Regions from separate parts of the Homo sapiens genome. Here region 2 is linked to region 1. Evidence: fine-mapped expression QTL. Tissue or cell type: whole blood. Region 1 holds a variant in brackets; the other region holds the start of a gene. All regions are shown on one strand. Distances are from middle to middle.

What was found. PIP is the estimated chance that this variant, and not a neighbour inherited with it, causes the effect.
Region 2: it holds the start of SAMHD1, and the variant in region 1 is fine-mapped to the expression of SAMHD1 in whole blood (TOPMed, PIP above 0.99).

Annotation. Positions count from the first base shown.
Region 1 is chr20:36,917,050-36,925,152 of GRCh38, reverse strand. It overlaps SAMHD1 (SAM and HD domain containing deoxynucleoside triphosphate triphosphohydrolase 1), which reads left to right. Exons shown (of 16, transcript NM_015474.4): 7 at 5,634-5,789. Among named protein-coding and RNA genes, the nearest start is that of SAMHD1, 31 kb to the left of the region's middle. The variant G/T (reference allele first, on the strand shown) is at 3,769.
Region 2 is chr20:36,947,275-36,955,377 of GRCh38, reverse strand. It overlaps SAMHD1 (SAM and HD domain containing deoxynucleoside triphosphate triphosphohydrolase 1), which reads left to right and starts at 3,670. Exons shown (of 16, transcript NM_015474.4): 1 at 3,670-3,942. The coding sequence starts at 3,735. RefSeq lists a silencer at 3,956-4,175 and an enhancer at 7,768-8,103.

The sequences.
Region 1 (8,103 bases):
ATGGAGTCTCACTCTGTTGCCCAGGCTGGAGTGCAGTGGTGCGATCTTGGCTCACTGCAACCTCCACCTCCTGGGTTCAAGCGAGTCTCCTGCCTCAGCCTCCTGAATAGCTGGGATTACAGGCATGTGCTACCACACCTGGCTGACTTTTGTATTTTTAGTAGAGATGGCTTTCACCATGTTGGTTAGGCTGGTCTCGAACTCCTGATCTCATGATCCACCCACATCGGCCTCCCAAAGCGCTGGGATTACAGACGTGAGCCACCGTGCCCGGCCGAGAAATCTAATTTTTTAATAGTTCATCCTATCCCCACTGACTGTAATACCAACCCCAACATTTATTAACTTCCCATATATGATGAATCATTCTGCATTCTGTTCTGTTTCCACACTTGTTACTTGGGGAAGAAAAAAAAAGAAGAAAAGAAATTTTTATCTGAGAAATATGAGCCCCTTTACATTATCAGGCCCAGAGAGGCATTGAAATAGAACAGCAATCATGTCACGCCCCCTTGAGCTAAATAATTATTATCTCTTGAAGCCAGCTGTTATGTGGGATGCCAGGTAACCATAAAATGCCATATATCCTGTACTTCATAATATGTAGCCAATCACTAACTAATGTTATTTCTGTAAGCCAGTGAACATTCCTGACTAACAACTTTTGTTATCACCTCCTCTTTGTGATCACCTCCTCCTCCTGATTTATGCTCTTTTCTTTTTTTTTCTTTTCTCTCCCTTCTGTCTCTGTCTCTCTTTTTCTCTTTCTCACTTTCTTTCTTTCTCATTCTTTCTCTTTTTCCCTTCCTTCCTTCCTTTCCTTCCTTTCTTTCCCTTCCTTCCCTTCTTTCCCTTCCTTTTCTTTCCCCTTCCCCCTTCCCTCCTTTCCCCTCCCCTCCCCTCAACAGGATCTTGCTTTGTCACCCAGGGTGGAGTGCAGTGGTGCAAACATGGCTTACTGCAACCTCGACTTCCAAGGCTCAAGCAATTCTCCCACTTCATCCTCCAGAGTAGCTGGGACTACAGGCACACACTACCATGCCCAGCTAATTTTTTATATTTTTTGTAGAGGGAGTGGGCCTCACTTTGTTACCCAGACTGGTCTCAACTCCCGAGCTCAAGCTATCTGCCCCGCTTGGCCTCCTAAAGTGCTGAGATTACAGGCCTAAGCCACCACACCTGGCCAGTCCTTTTTTGTTTAAAAACTTGAGCCTCTTTTGTTCTCCCCAAGCATTCCCCAAGGCAATTTGTAAATGTGTCCTCAACCTTGGCCCAAATAAACTCTCTATATTAAATATTTCTCAGCTCCTTCCTTTTAGGTTGACATACTTTATAATAAGATTTATGTTTTTATTTTTTCCTTTCTGTGGAGAACAGAGTCTTACTATGTTGCCCAGGCTGGTCTTGACCTCCAGACTCAAGCGATCCTTCCATCTCAGCCTCCCAAGTAGCTGGGGCCACAGGCCTGCACCGTCACACCTGGGTATTTATTTGTAGAGATGGAGTCTTACTATGTTGCCTAGGCTTGCCATGAAAGTCATACATCTTTGTTATACTTACTCCTAAGTTCCTTATAATTTTAGTTGTTATTATGGTCTGTGCTAGCTTTATGAAACTTAATTTTTTCTGTTTGCTAGTATATTCACAGTTGGCATTGATATATTTAAAACTACTATTTTGAAAATCCCTTACTTTATTTATTTATTTATTTATTTTTATTTTATTGTTTTTGAGAGAGGGTCTTGCCCTGTCACCCGGGCAGGAGCTCAGTGATGTCATCTAAGCTCACTGCAACCTCTGCCTCCCAGGGTCAAGTGATCCACCTCATTTTTATTTTTTAAAATACTCTCTCTTGGCCAGGCGTGGTGGCTCGCGCCTGTAATCTGAGCACTTTGGGAGGCCAAGGTGGGCGGATCACAAGGTCAGAAGATTGAGACCATCCTGGCTAACGGTGAAATCCCGTCTCTACTAAAAATACAAAAAAATTGGCTGGGTGTGGTGGCAGGCACCTGTAGTCCCAGCTACTCAGGAGGCTGAGGCAGGAGAATGGCGTGAACCCAGGAGGCGGAGCTTGCAGTGAGCTGAAATCACGCCACTGCACTCCAGCCTGGGTGACAGAGTGAGACACTGTGTCAAAAAATAAATAAAATACTCTCTCTTTATATATAGATATTTTTTTTCTGAATCATTAGAAAGTAAGTTTTGACCAGGCACAGTGGCTCATGGTTGTAATATCAACATTTTGGGAGGCCAAGGTGGGCAGATCGCTTGAGCCCAGGAGTTCAAGACCAGCCTGGACAACATGGTGAAACCCCGTCTCTACAAAAAAATTTAAAAATTAGCCAGGCATGGTGGGGTGGCAGGATTGCTTGAGCCTGGGAGGTCGAGGCTGCAATGAGCTGTGATCGTGCTACTGCACTCCAACGTAGGTAACAGAGTGAGAACTTGTCTCAAAAAAAGAAAGTTAGTTTTTAGACTGGACACAGTGGCTTACACCTGTAATCCCAACAGTTTGGGAGGCTAAGGCAGGAGGATAGCTTTGAGCCCAGGAGTTCAACACCAGCCTGGGCAACATAGTGAAACTGTCTCTACAAAATTATGAAAACATCAGCTGGTCATTGTGGTGCACACCTGTGGTCCTAGCTACTGAGAACGGGAGGATTACTTGAATCCAGGAGTTCAGGGATACACTGAGCTATGAATATGCCACTGAGCTCCAGCCTGGGTGATAGAGCAAGAGCCCTGTCTCTCAAAGAATGTAAATTGTTGAAATACTTTATTTCTAAATACTTCAGTGGGTATTTCCTAAAAACAACATTTTCTTATATAACCATAGTATAATTATCAAAATCAGTAAATTAATGTTGATGCAGTACTCTTATCTAATTCAGACTTTCAAATTTTACCAATTGTCCATATAGAAAAAGGGGAAAAAAACTTTTTTTCCCTGGTCCAGAATTACACATTGCATTTAGTTGCCATTTTTCTAGTTTCTTTTGATCTGGAGCAATTCTTCAGTCTTTATCGTTAGTGACTTTGTCATTTTTTTAAAGAGCAACTGAGCTATTTTGTGGAATGTTCCTCAATTTGAGTTTCAGTGTGATGTTTCCTCATGGATTCAAGCTATGCATTTTTGGTAGAATGCCACAAAAGTGATGTGTCCAGATCGGACGCAGTGGCTCACATCTGTAATCCCAGCACTTTGGGAGGCCAAGGTGGGTGGATTACCTGAGGTCAGAAGTTGGAGACCAGCCTGGCCAATATGGCGAAACCCTGTCTCTACTAAAAATATAAAAATTATCTGGGCATGGTGGTGGGCACCTGTAATCCCAGCTACTCGGGAGGCTGAGGCAGGAGAATCACCTGAACCTGGGAGGCGGAGGTTGCAGTGAGCCAAGATCACGCCATTTCACTCCAGCCTGGGCAACAAGAGGGAAAAAAAAAAAAAACAACCACAAAAAATTAGCTGGGTGTGGTGGCACGTGCCTACTTGGGAGGCTGAGGAAGGAGAATTGCTTGAGCCCGGGAGCCCAGGAGGTGACAGAGCTAGACTCTGTCTCCAAAAAAATCAGTGATGCATCCTTCATAGTGTATCATCTCAGGAGGCACATAAATCCTAGTTGAGCCAATACCAATGATATTAATTCTGCTTACTTGATTAAGGCATTGTCTGTCAAATCTCTCCATTATAAAGTTACTATTTTTCCTCTTTGTAATTACGTATATCTTGATTCAATTCGTTTTTTTTTTTTTTTTTTTTGAGACAGA[G/T]TCTCGCTGTGTCGCCCAGCCTGTAGTGCAGTGGCGTGATCTCGGCTCACTGCAACCTCCGCCTCCCGAGTTCAAGCGTTTCTCCTGCTTCAGCCTCCTGAGTAGCTGGGACTACAGGTGCATGCCACCACACCCAGCTAATTTTTATATTTTTAGTAGAGATGGGGTGTCACCATGTTGGCCAGTATGATCTTGATCTCCTGACCTCGTGATCTGCCTGCCTCCGCCTCCTAAAGTGCTGGGATTACAGGCGTGAGCTACTGTGCCCGGCCAATTTGTTTGTTGTTGTTGTTGTTTTTTGGAGACAAGGTCTTGCTCTGTTGCCCAGGCTGGAGTACAGGCATGAACATAGCTAACTGCAGCCTCAACCACCTGGGCTCAAGCAATCCTCCCACCTTGGTCTCCCAAGTAGCTGGGACCACAGGCGCATGTCACTATACCCAGCCAATCTTTTTATCTTTTTGTAGAGACAGGGTCTTGCTTTGTTGCCCAGGCTGCTCTCGAACTCCTGGGCTCAAGCAATCCTCCCACCTTTGCCTCTCAAAAAAATGCTAGGATTACAAATGTGAGCCACTGCACCCAGCCTGATTCTGTTTTTGTGGGTTTTTTTTTTTTTCTTTTGAAACAGAGTGTCACTTTGTTGCCCACCCAGGCTGGAGTGCAGGGCGATCTCGGCTCACTGCAACCTCCACCTCCTGGGTTCAAGTGATTGTCCTGCCTCAGTCCCCCAAGTAGCTGGGATTATAGGTGCACCCTACCATGCCTGGCTAATTTTTGTATTTTTTAGTAGACAGGAGGTTTTGCCATGTTGGCCAAACTTGTACTGTTGACCTCAAGTGATCCGCCCACCTCGGCCTCCCAAAACGCTGGGATTACAGGTGTGAGCCACCGCACCCAGGCCTGACAGCCCTGATTCTGTTTTTAAGAATAGTTTCTGGAGCAAGAATTGTTTCTGCGGGGGCGGGGAAAGAATAGTTATAGGGCAAGTTGCTTGTAATCCTGCCACTTTGGGAGGCTGAGACAGGAGGATTATTTGAGCCTAGGAGTTCAAGACCAACCTGGTCAACAAATCAAGACCCTGCCTCTACAAAAAAATCTAAAAATTAGCTGGGTAGGGTGGTGTGCACCTGTGGTTTCAGCTACTCGGGAGGCTGAAGTGGGAGGATCACTTGAGCCCAGGAGTTCAAGACTACAGTGACCCCATGATCACATCACTGGACTCTAGCCAGGGCAACAGAGCAATTCCCTGTCTCTTTTTTTAAAAAAATATAGTTATAGGATAATTCAGGTTTTGTTTTTCATCTTGAGTTAGTTTTTGGTAGGATCTAGGAAAGGGCAGATGTCTTCAGGAGTTCATTTGATCCTTTACATTGATTGTGAATGAGTGAGCAGAGAGAGATGAGCAAACAGGCCAATTGGAGATTTCAAGGGAGATCTTTGTTTTTACTGGCAAGTTTGCAGTTACCCCTTTTCACCACTAGATGGTAGTGCCTAACAGAGCTTATAACTGCACGTGTTCAAAGGCTGATGAAAAAATAAAATTCAATTTTATGATGATATTTATTAAAATGTAATTCTGTCTACATGATCTTATAATATTCATTTAGGAACTGTAAATGATTATATCATTAAATGCATTAAATATGTTTATGAAATAAGTTTTGTAAAAGGTTTGTAGACTACTAGTAAAATGAAAAATCTGACAGGTTTTTAAAAATGTTCCTAAGATTGTGGTTAGAAACTAGAGAATTAATATGCAATAGACCTTTATCTCAGAATTACTTGGAATTGAGGATAATTTTGTTAGTCAGGGCTCCCAATGGGCTAGAATCTTTAACACATCATATTGTGCTTACTTTTCCTAGCATGAACAAGGCTCAGTTATGATGTTTGAGCACCTTATTAATTCTAATGGAATTAAGCCTGTCATGGAACAATATGGTCTCATCCCTGAAGAAGATATTTGCTTTATAAAGGAACAAATTGTAGGACCACTTGAATCACCTGTCGAAGATTCATTGGTAAGTTTATGTACAGCTTAATTTTAACTGACTGGTGCTTTTCATCTAGCCTTTTCATGATTCCTTCTGAGTTATACATTTGGCTATTTTAGAGGCTAAATGATAAAATATGAGTTCTATGTTTCTACTGTTTAATGCAAAAAATAAAAGGCTTATATTTTTTTCTACCTCTCAACTGAATTAGTTAGAAGTTACTTCCCAAAAATATATATACAGAAATTCTTTTTAGAGACAGGGTCTTACTCTGTCACACAGGCTGGAGTGCAGTGGCACAATCTCAGCTCACTGCAACTTCCACCTCCCAGGCTCAAGCGATCCTCCTACCTCAGCCTCCTGAGTAGCTGGGACCACAAACGTGCACTACCATGCCCAGCTAATTTTTGTATTTTTTGTAGAGATGGGGTTTTGTCACGTTGCCCAGGTTAGTCTTGAAATCCTGAGCTCAAGTGATCTGCCCAGCTCTGCCTCTGAAAGTGCTGGGATTACAGGTGTGAGCCACTGTGCTTGGCATAAATTCTTTTCTTTTCTTTCTTTCTTTCTTTTTTTTTTTTTTTTTTTTTTTGAGATAGAGTCTTACTGTGTTGGCCAGGCTGGAGTACAGTGGCATGATCTCAGCGCAGTGCAACCTCTGTCTCCCAGGCTCAAGCAATTCTTCTGCTTCAGCCTCCTGAGTAGCTGGGATTACAGGTGTGTGCCACCACGCCCGGCAAATCTTTGTATTTTTAGTAGAGACGGGGTTTCACCATGTTGCCCAGGCTGGTCTCAAACTCCTGACCTCAGGTGATCCACCCGCCTCAGCCTCCCAAAGTGGTGGGATTACAAGCGTGAGCCGCCACCGCGCCCGGCCATAAATTCTTTTTTAGTGAATATATATGCAGTATTTTATTCATTAAAAAAAATTTTTTTTTTTGGAGATGTGGTCTCACTATGTTGCCTAAGCTGGTTTCGAACTCCTGGGCTCAAGTGATTCTCCCACTTTGGCCTCCCAAAATACTGGGATTGCAGGCGTGAGCCACCATACCTGGCCTGCAGTATTTTATATAGAAGCCTAAAGTAACTTTGTTTGGAATGTAAATGTGTATGTTTTATTTAACCATTAAAATGAACATATTTGGCCAGGCTCAGTGACTCATGCCTGTAATCCCAGCACTTTGGGAGGCCATGATGGGAGGATCACTTGAGCCCAGGAGTTTGAGATCAGCCTGGGTAATACTGAAACCCTGTCTCATGCCTGTAGTCTCAGATGCTTGGGAGGCTGAGGCAGGCTGCAGTGATCTGTGATTGTGCAACTGCACTCCAGCCTGGGCAACAGAGCTAGATCCTGTCTACAAATTTAAAAAAAAATCATATTTGAAATATTTATAGGAAGATCTACAAAAAAGTTGAACCAGTTCAATGGAAAATCTGTTTTGTTTCCTTTTTGATCTTTTGTATTTTTTTAATTAAAAATAAAGTTGGGAAATAATTTCCCCCTGAGATTTTTAGGGCTGTTTCCTCAAATATATACAAGTGTACTTACAGTATAAGATAAACAGATGAGTTTTGTAGCAAATATCCTATTTCCAAAAAAGTGGAGCTCAAAGAATACATTCAACAATGCATATTATTTAGACTAGGTATGTAGCTACTTTGAAAGATAGTACTGTTTTAATGCATGAATTCAAGCATTGTTAGTTTATTATTAGATTTTATATTATTTATTTATTTATTTTTGAGACGGTGTCTTGCTCTGTTGCCCAGGCTAGAGGGCAGTGGCACAACCTCAGGTCACTGCAACCTCCGCCTCCTGAGTTCAGGCGATTCTCCTGCCTCAGCCTCCTGAGTAGCTGGGAGTACAGGCACTTGCTACCATGCCCAACTAATTTTGTGTTTTTAGTAGAGACAGGGTTTCACCATCTTGGCCAAGCTGGTTTCAAACTCCAGACCTCGTGATCCGCCCTCCTCGGCCTCCCAAAGTGATGAGATTACAGGCGTGAGCCACCATGCCTGGCCTAGATTTTATATTTTTCAAAAACTTATAAACCAAGAAAACACAAAAGTTGTTGGTTTTGGGAAATGTAATAGAGTTCAGATCTTTTCAGTGGCACAAGAAAATGTGGTAACAATAGGGTATCATATACCTTAGCATTTCTTTTCCCTTTCTACTAGTTTTGAAATGAAGTGGAAGAAAGAAAGAATAGAACCTTCTAGTTTATCTCATATTCCCAGTCAGGTATCTGTTTATATTTTACAGATTAATAAAATTGCTTTGCTTTGTTTATAAATAGATTTGGTGCCTATCCTAAAACTTCCAGTGGGTTTTCTTGCCTTCCAG
Region 2 (8,103 bases), 30 kb before region 1:
CTTATTCAAGGTCATTGGGCAGTGGGCCTTAAATTAATTGATCTTATTGTTTTTTCTAGTCCTAACCATACTGAGATTGACTTTAGAAGAGGGCAGCTTGAGCAGTCATTTCTCTCACTATGGCCAGAGTCCAGGGCCTGTGTCCAGTGGGTGTTGGTTCCCAGGCTGTGGAATTATGATGGAAAAGGATCGTTAGGACTGTAAGAGGAGTTAAATGAAGTGGCAAACTGGAAAGAGCCTATACTTTGGAGCGAGGGAGCACTGCCTTTGAATCCTCTCTCTGTCCCTTACCAGCCATGTTGACCCTGAACAAGTAACTAATGACCTAGCGCAAGATCAAAGGCCCCTTGAAAGTAGGGAATTAGGGAAAATATAATAAGTATGGCAATAAATTATACTTTTTAACAAACAAAAACAGAAAATAAAAGTTCTGGATGGGTGCGGTGGCTCATGCCTGTAATCTGAGCACTTTGGGAGGCCAAGGCACTTGAGGTCAGGAGTTCACTGATCACTTGAGGTCAGGAGTTCAAAGCCAGCCTGGCCAACATGGTGAAACCCCGTCTCTACTAAAAATACAAAAAAATTAGTTGGGCGTCGTGGCGGGTGCCTATAATCCCAGCTACTCAGGAGGCTGAGGCAGGAGAATCGCTTGAACCCGGGAGGCAGAGGTTTGCAGTGAGCCCAGATTGCACCACTGCACTCCACCCTGGGCCACAGAGCAAGACTCTGTCTCAAAAAAAATTAAAATTAAAATTAAAATAAAAAAATGAAATTAAAAAACTAAAAATTCTTAAAAGCAGCTGCTTTGAACAAACACAGTTGATTAAACTAAAAACCCTGCTATAACACCTTCTATTGTCCAGGAAACCTTGATGTCAGGGCAGGTTTCCCCACAGGTCTTATAAACACAAGTTTTTAAATCAGCCATTTCTGACTTGAGATTAAGTCTTTCATACATATGCTATTTGTTTTCTTATCCCGTTTTGGTTTCGCAAGTCTTGGCAACTGTCAGGTCTTTTCACAAAGTTCTCTAGTGTTTGAGGGCATTTTTTTGGGGGGCCTGGCCTTGTGTGCAGATGGAAAACAACTCTTTTTTTTTTTTTTTTTTTGAGATAGAGTTTCACTTTTGTCTCCCAGGCTATGGCTCACTTCAACCTCCACCTCCCAGGTTCAAGCGATTCTCCTGCCTCAGCCTCCTGAGTAGCTGGGATTACAGGCGGCTGCCACCACGCCCGGCTAATTTTTTTTTTTTTTTTTTTGAGACGGAGTCTCGCTCTGTTGCCCAGGCTGGAGTGCAGTGGCGCGATCCAAGCTCACTGCAACCTCCGCCTCCCAGGTTCAAGCAATTCTCTGCCTCAGCCTCTCAAGTAGCTGGGATTACAGGTGCCTGCTACGATGCCCAGCTAATTGTTTTGTATTTTTAGTAGAGACGGGTTTCATCATGTTGGCCAGACTAGTCTTGAACTCCTGACCTTGTGATCCACCCGCCTCGGCCTCCCAAAGTGCTGGGATTACAGGTGACAGCTACTGCGCCTGGCCACCCAGCTAATTTTTGTAATTTTAGTAGAGACAGGGTTTTGCCATGTTGGCCAGGCTGGTCTCGAACTCCTGACCTCAGGTGATCCACCCGCCTCGGCCTCCCAAAGTGCTGGGATTACAGACGTGAGCCACTGCGCCTGGCAGGAACACCTTTATACTTTCCTCCATGGGTCTGCAGGAAAAGGGAGCCATTGAAAATTGTGGGTTAAATAATAGAAAATAGTTTTATATCAAAACCCCCTTTACTTATTTATTTATTTTTTATTATTATTATTTTTGAAACAGAGTCTTGCTCTGTTGCCCAGGCTGGAGTGCAACGGGAAGATCTTGGCTCACTGCAACCTACACCTCCCACATTTGAGTGATTCTCGTGCCCCCGCCTCCTGAGTAGCTGGGATTACAGGCATGCACCACCAGGCCTGGCTAATTTTTGTATTTTAGTAGAGATGGGGTTTCACCATGTTGGCCAGGTTGGCCTTGAACTCCTGGCCTCAAGTGAGTGCTCTGGCCTCCCAAAGTGCTGGGATTACAGGCATGAGCCACTGCACCCAGCCCCAAACCCCCTTTAACAAGCAGTGGTTGGCAAGTTATCAAGACCATGGACTTTGGAACCAAGTTACATCTCTTGGGTTTGAATACAGGCTTCATCATTTCCTAGCTGTAAGACCTTGGGCAGCTGGGTACGGCTGTGTAATCCCAGCACTTTGGGAGGCTGAGGTGTGGGAATCACCTGAGGTCAGGAGTTCAAGACCAGCCTGGCCAACATGGTGAAATCCTGTCTCTACTAAAAATACAAAAATTAGCCAGGTGTGGTGGCAGGCGCCTGTAGTCCCAGCTACTTGGGAGTCTGAGGCATGAGAATCACTTGAACCTGGGAGGCAGAGGTTGCAGTGAGCTGAGATCACGCCACTGCACTCCAGCTTGGGAAACAGAGCAAGACTCCGTCTCAAAAAAAAAAAAGAAGACCTGCGGCAAATTACTTTTTCCTACATCCTAAGGTAATTGTGATAATTAAGTGAAGTAATATGTGTAGAGCCCTTAGAACTTTACAATATTTGTAAAACCCTTAGAAGTTATAAAAATTATTTAATATTTAAATAATTTAATGAATGTACTTAATTCATTTAGTATTATGTATAAATATAAAATTATTTTATATTTGTAAAGCCCTTAGAACCGTGCCTGGCACACAGTAAAGCTCTGTTTGCAAATAATATTTTGGCTCACCAGTAGACCACTAGTTCATACTGCTTGATGATAAGCTATTCCGCCTCATTCGTCCTTGACCCCCTAAACAGGTCTATGCCTTGGTTGCTGGGAAGGTGTGTTGGCTTTATTAACAGTAATAGTGATATGTCCTTTTACCAGGCAATTGCATGGACCAGTATTTATAGGGAAGTTTGAGCCCTGCCGCAGAGGGGTTAAGTGATGGGAAAATGCCTGCCATTTTCACATGCTGTTACAACCAGGCAGTAAAAGTCCTCAGAAGTTAAATTTTAAGTAATCAGACTGGCCACTTTCCTTCCTCTGGGAATGCAGTTGGGATGGAGGGCTCTGTCTCTAGTTGGAAAGAAGTCTGAAGTCCCCTCCTGTGTGGACACCAGACAACAGGTATCCCAGGGCCCTCTAGTTGACCAGCAATACTGTGGAATGAAGACACCCTCAAGTCACATTTGAAATCATTCCGGGTTCTTCCAGTTCAGCACCTTGACTGTTTTCCTCTTCACTGGGAAGGTGCTGGCAGCCTGACGGCCTTTTAGGCTTCTTTTAAGTTTGGGGCATCTGAAACCCGGCCAAGGTGCGGCGGGTAGTGTACTCATTCGAAGGAGAATACCCCCAATTCACTAGACGAGCCCCTAATTGGGGGTGCGGTGCCGGGCGCGCTCTTTCCTCCCCCTTTCCACCAGCACTGCCCTCAGTTCTGCTTCTAGCCACGCCCTTTCGCGTTCACGTCCAGCGCCCTGGCGGGATTGATTTGAGGACGACTGGACTGCCATTGCGCCTGCGCAGGGAGCCCAAGGCAAGAGCCGCTAGGCTGCCCTGCCCGAAGGGCTCAACTGTCAGTGAGCCTGCGCAGGAGGCCAATAGGCTGCCAATACTCCTTGGACTCCCCGCCAGGGCCCTGCTGTCAGTGCGCCTGCGCGCGGGTCCGGCGCCGAGGTTCTTGACTGCTGTGCCGGACGCCAGGTGTAGCCATGCAGCGAGCCGATTCCGAGCAGCCCTCCAAGCGTCCCCGTTGCGATGACAGCCCGAGAACCCCCTCAAACACCCCTTCCGCAGAGGCAGACTGGTCCCCGGGCCTGGAACTCCATCCCGACTACAAGACATGGGGTCCGGAGCAGGTGTGCTCCTTCCTCAGGCGCGGTGGCTTTGAAGAGCCGGTGCTGCTGAAGAACATCCGAGGTAGCGGCTCCGGAGGGGCTGAGGGGCGAAGGGCGGCGACCTGGGGCGCGGGCCAGGCGCCCTGAGGGAGGGGGCCCCACGAGAGGACCGAGGCCGAGGAGCGAGCCCTGCGGCGGGAGGCACCCGGGAGGGCGGACCTGCGCTGGGGGCGCCGAGGAAAGGAAGACCCGAGGCGGGGGAGGGAGCCCTGCGGCGGGGGTTCCCAGGAGGGCCTGCGGCATGGGGCTCCCGGGACTGACTCCCCGAGGCGGAGGAAGAAGACATGGGGTCGCCTGGGATAGGCGATTCGTAGGATGGGAGCAGGCTCCCGGGATTGAGGACCTGGGAGGGGCAGTCGTAGATTGGGATCTCACTCTCGTGGGTTTCTTCACTAACTTGCCACCCCGGCGCGGGACAAGCGAGACTCGGGTCCCTTTTTTTTAGTTAGAAGGAGATTTTTCCCCAGACCTTGGTGGGCGGCTTGCTGTCATCCAGGCTCGCGGGACCCCTCCGCGCTAACCGCAGCTCCTTGAACACTTGCCACATCAGAGGATGTTCTGGGGCTTTTAGGTTTCGGTTTCCTCCCTGAATTGAGGCTTTTCCTGAAGGGGAAGGAACTGGCTTGGTTAATCTCTGAATTCCCATCACCTTCCTTGGCATCCCAGCAGCGCCCGATAGGCGTGTGTTGACTGCACTTGCAGAACATGGTAAGGAACATGTTTTGCTCTTTAAAAGCAGGTTCCCCTCCAAAATCTGAACCTTGGGGTTGTTCAGTTGACCACTGAATCCCCAGCATGCCACAGTTTGGCCACATCCCCTGGAGAAGTGTTTAGGTTGAGTTTTAATCATATTTTACTGATTCGTATCCAAGCATCCATCCTTGTGAATTCTACTCAACTTTTTGTGGTGGGTGTGAGATTTGACTCCTGCCTTATATCCTCTAGGTGTCCAATAGGAAGGTGATTCTTTGGTGGTTGGGATTTGCAAATTTAGTAAATTTTTGCATTTGTTAGGTGGGGCCCTGTTTGGCTAGGTTGGAAACTGGGGTAGGAGGAACATTAGTGGTTCAGGACCCAAAGATAGCTTGAATGGGTATGGGAAATTGCATTTCTCCTTTTTTTTTTTTCTTCCCCCTTTTGCCCTTTCGTTTCCCTCCACTGCTGGGATGGATTATTACTTTATTTTCTTTGACTAGCAACAAGTGGAGTGAAGTAGTTCCATATTTTCTGTCTCAAAATGTGGTTGGCTCTCTGTTTCAGTGGTTTGTAGATTAACTCGTTACCCTCCAGAATGATGTGTGTTCCTTAAACCTACAACCTATTGCTATCAAAGACACTATGTGCTTTCATTTGGTAAAAACTGACCAACTGTTCCCAATTGCTCATGTCTTAGCTTCTGCTTTGTCTTGACCAAACTTTATTCGGACTTCTCTCTTCCCTTATGGGCCCCTCAACTCTTGCTTACCCCCAGATCTGACCAGGCAGGCACTAAAGCAGTGGAATATGCCTCCCTCTGGTCAGTTTCTTTTGAGAACCGGCTGACCACAGTAGGATGCTGTCCTGTTGGGCTACACTGCTCATTTTCCCTTGCTCGTCCAGGTTCCTATCCAAAGATTCTGCTTATTTCTGCTTGCCCGTCCTTTATCATATAAAAGAAGACCCTTTTTCTGTTGGATTCTTTTTTTTTTTTTTTTTTTTTTTTGAGACAGAGTCTCGCTCTGTCGCCAGGCTGGAGTGCAGTGGCGCCATCTCGGCCCAGTGCAACCTCTAACTGCCTGGTTCAAGCTATTCTCCTGCCTCAGCCTCCCGAGTAGCTGGGATTACAGGCATGTGCCACCACGCCCAGCTAATTTTTTTGTATTTTTAGTAGAGATGGGGTTTCACCATGTTGGCCAGGATGGTCTCCATCTCCTGAACTCGTGATCCGCCTGCCTCAGCCTCCCAAAGTGCTGGGATTACAGGCGTGAGCCACCGCGCCCGGCCTCATTTTTTTTTTTTTTTTAATTAGAGACAGGGTTTTGCCATGTTGGCCAGGCTGGTCTCAAACTCTTGGCTTCGAGTGACCATCCACCCACCTCGGCCTCCTAAAGTGCTGGGATTACAAGTGTGAGCCACCATGCCCAACCTCTGTTTGGTTCTTGGGCCTCTGTTTGATTATTTTTTAAAATTTATTTTATTATTTTATTTTTTTTCTGAGATGGAGTCTCGCTCTGTCACGCAGGCTGAAGTGCACCGGCACAATCTCAGCTCACTGCAACCTCTGCCTCTCGGGTTCAAGTGGTTCTCCTGCCTCAGCCTCCCTAGTTGCTGGGATTACAGGTGCACGCCACCACGCCTGGCTAATTTTGTGTTTTTAGTAAAGACAGGGTTTCACCATGTTGGCCAGGCTGGTCTCCAACTCCTGTCCTCAGGTGATGCATCCGCCTCTGCCTCCCAAAGTGCTGGGATTACAGGCGTGAGCCACCGCGCCCGGCCGGCCTATGTGTTTGATTCCTGAGCCTCTTGCAGATATCTGATATTGGAGCTTTCTCCCTGTAGAAATAGTCTTTCTTCTTTTCTTTTCTTTTTTTCTTTTCTTTTTTTTTTTTTTTTGAGACAGAGTCTCGCTCTGTCGCCAGGCTGAAATGCAGTGGTGTGATCTCGGCTCACTGTAACCTCTGCCTCCCGGGTTCAAGCAATTCTCCTGCCTCAGCCTCCTGAGTAGCTGTGACTACAGGTGCCCACCACCACACCTGGCTAATTTTTGTATTTTTAGTAGAGATGGGGTTTCACCATGTTGGCCAGGATGGTCTTAATCTCTTGACCTGATGATTCACACGCCTTGGCCTCCCAAAGTGCTGGGATTACAGGTGTGAGCCACCACGCCCGACCAGCAATAGTCTTTCTTTCTAATAAAGTTTCTCTTGGCCGGGCACGGTGGCTCACGCCTGTAATCCCAGCACTTTGGAAGGCCGAAGCAGGTAGATCACCTGAGGTCAGGAATTCAAGCCCAGCCTGGCCAACATGGTGAAACACCGTCTCTACTAAAAATACAAAAATTAGCCGGGCATGGTGGTATGTGCCTGTAGTCCCAGCTACTTGGGAAGCTGAGGCAGGAGAATCACTTGAACCTGGGAGGCGGAGGTTGCAGTGAGCCAAGATCCCGCCACTGCACTCCAGCCTGGGCGACCGAGTGAGACTCCATCTCGGAAAAGAAAAAAAAAGTCTCTCTTTATCTAAGTCCATTTTTTTTTTAATTTGATAAGCCAAGCACAAGGTACAGTGTCCCTTTTCTCATTATGGAATACAGCCTCACAAGAAGTCTGAAATAAGTTACTACACTCAACACATTTTACCGATGATGTATGCGAGGTCCAAAGATGTAAAGTAACTTTTCAGAGATCACACCACTACAAAAAAGAGCTAGATTTTTTAAGGTTAGGTCTTTGGACTCTAGAACTCATGTGATCTATACCTTAACAAGTATTCTCATCAAAAACCACTGGAGGCCTGGCCCAGTGGCTCATACCTATAATCCCAGCACTTTGGGAGGCCAGTGTGGGAAGATCACTTGAGCCCAAGAATTCAAGACCAGCCTGGGCAACATCAGGAGACCTCAACTTTACAAAAAATAAAAATAAAAATTAGCTAGGTGCAGTGGCACATGCCTGTGGTCCCAGCTACTCAGGAGGCTGAGGCAGGAGGATCGCTTGAGCCCAGGAGGTCAAGGCTGCAGTGAGATGTGATCGCACCACTGCACTCCAACCTGGGCAACAAGCAAAACCCTGTCTCAAAGAAAATAAAAGAAAATAGTCCAGAGTTCTGGAATTTGAGGTCAGGAAAGATTAGAATTAATTGTATAGAAAGAGAAAGGAAAAAACCCAACAACACACACACACACACACACACACACACACACACACACACCCCTCTTCCAAATCAGAGTATTGAGTGCTTTCCCAGGACACACACACACACACACACACTCACACACACACACACCTCTTCCAAATCAGAGTATTGAGTGCTTTCCCAGGACACACACACACACACACACACACACACACACACACCTCTTCCAAATCACACACACCTCTTCCAAATCAGAGTATTGAGTGCTTTCCCAGGACACACACACACACACACACACACACACACACACACACACCTCTTCCAAATCAGAGTATTGAGTGCTTTCCCAGGA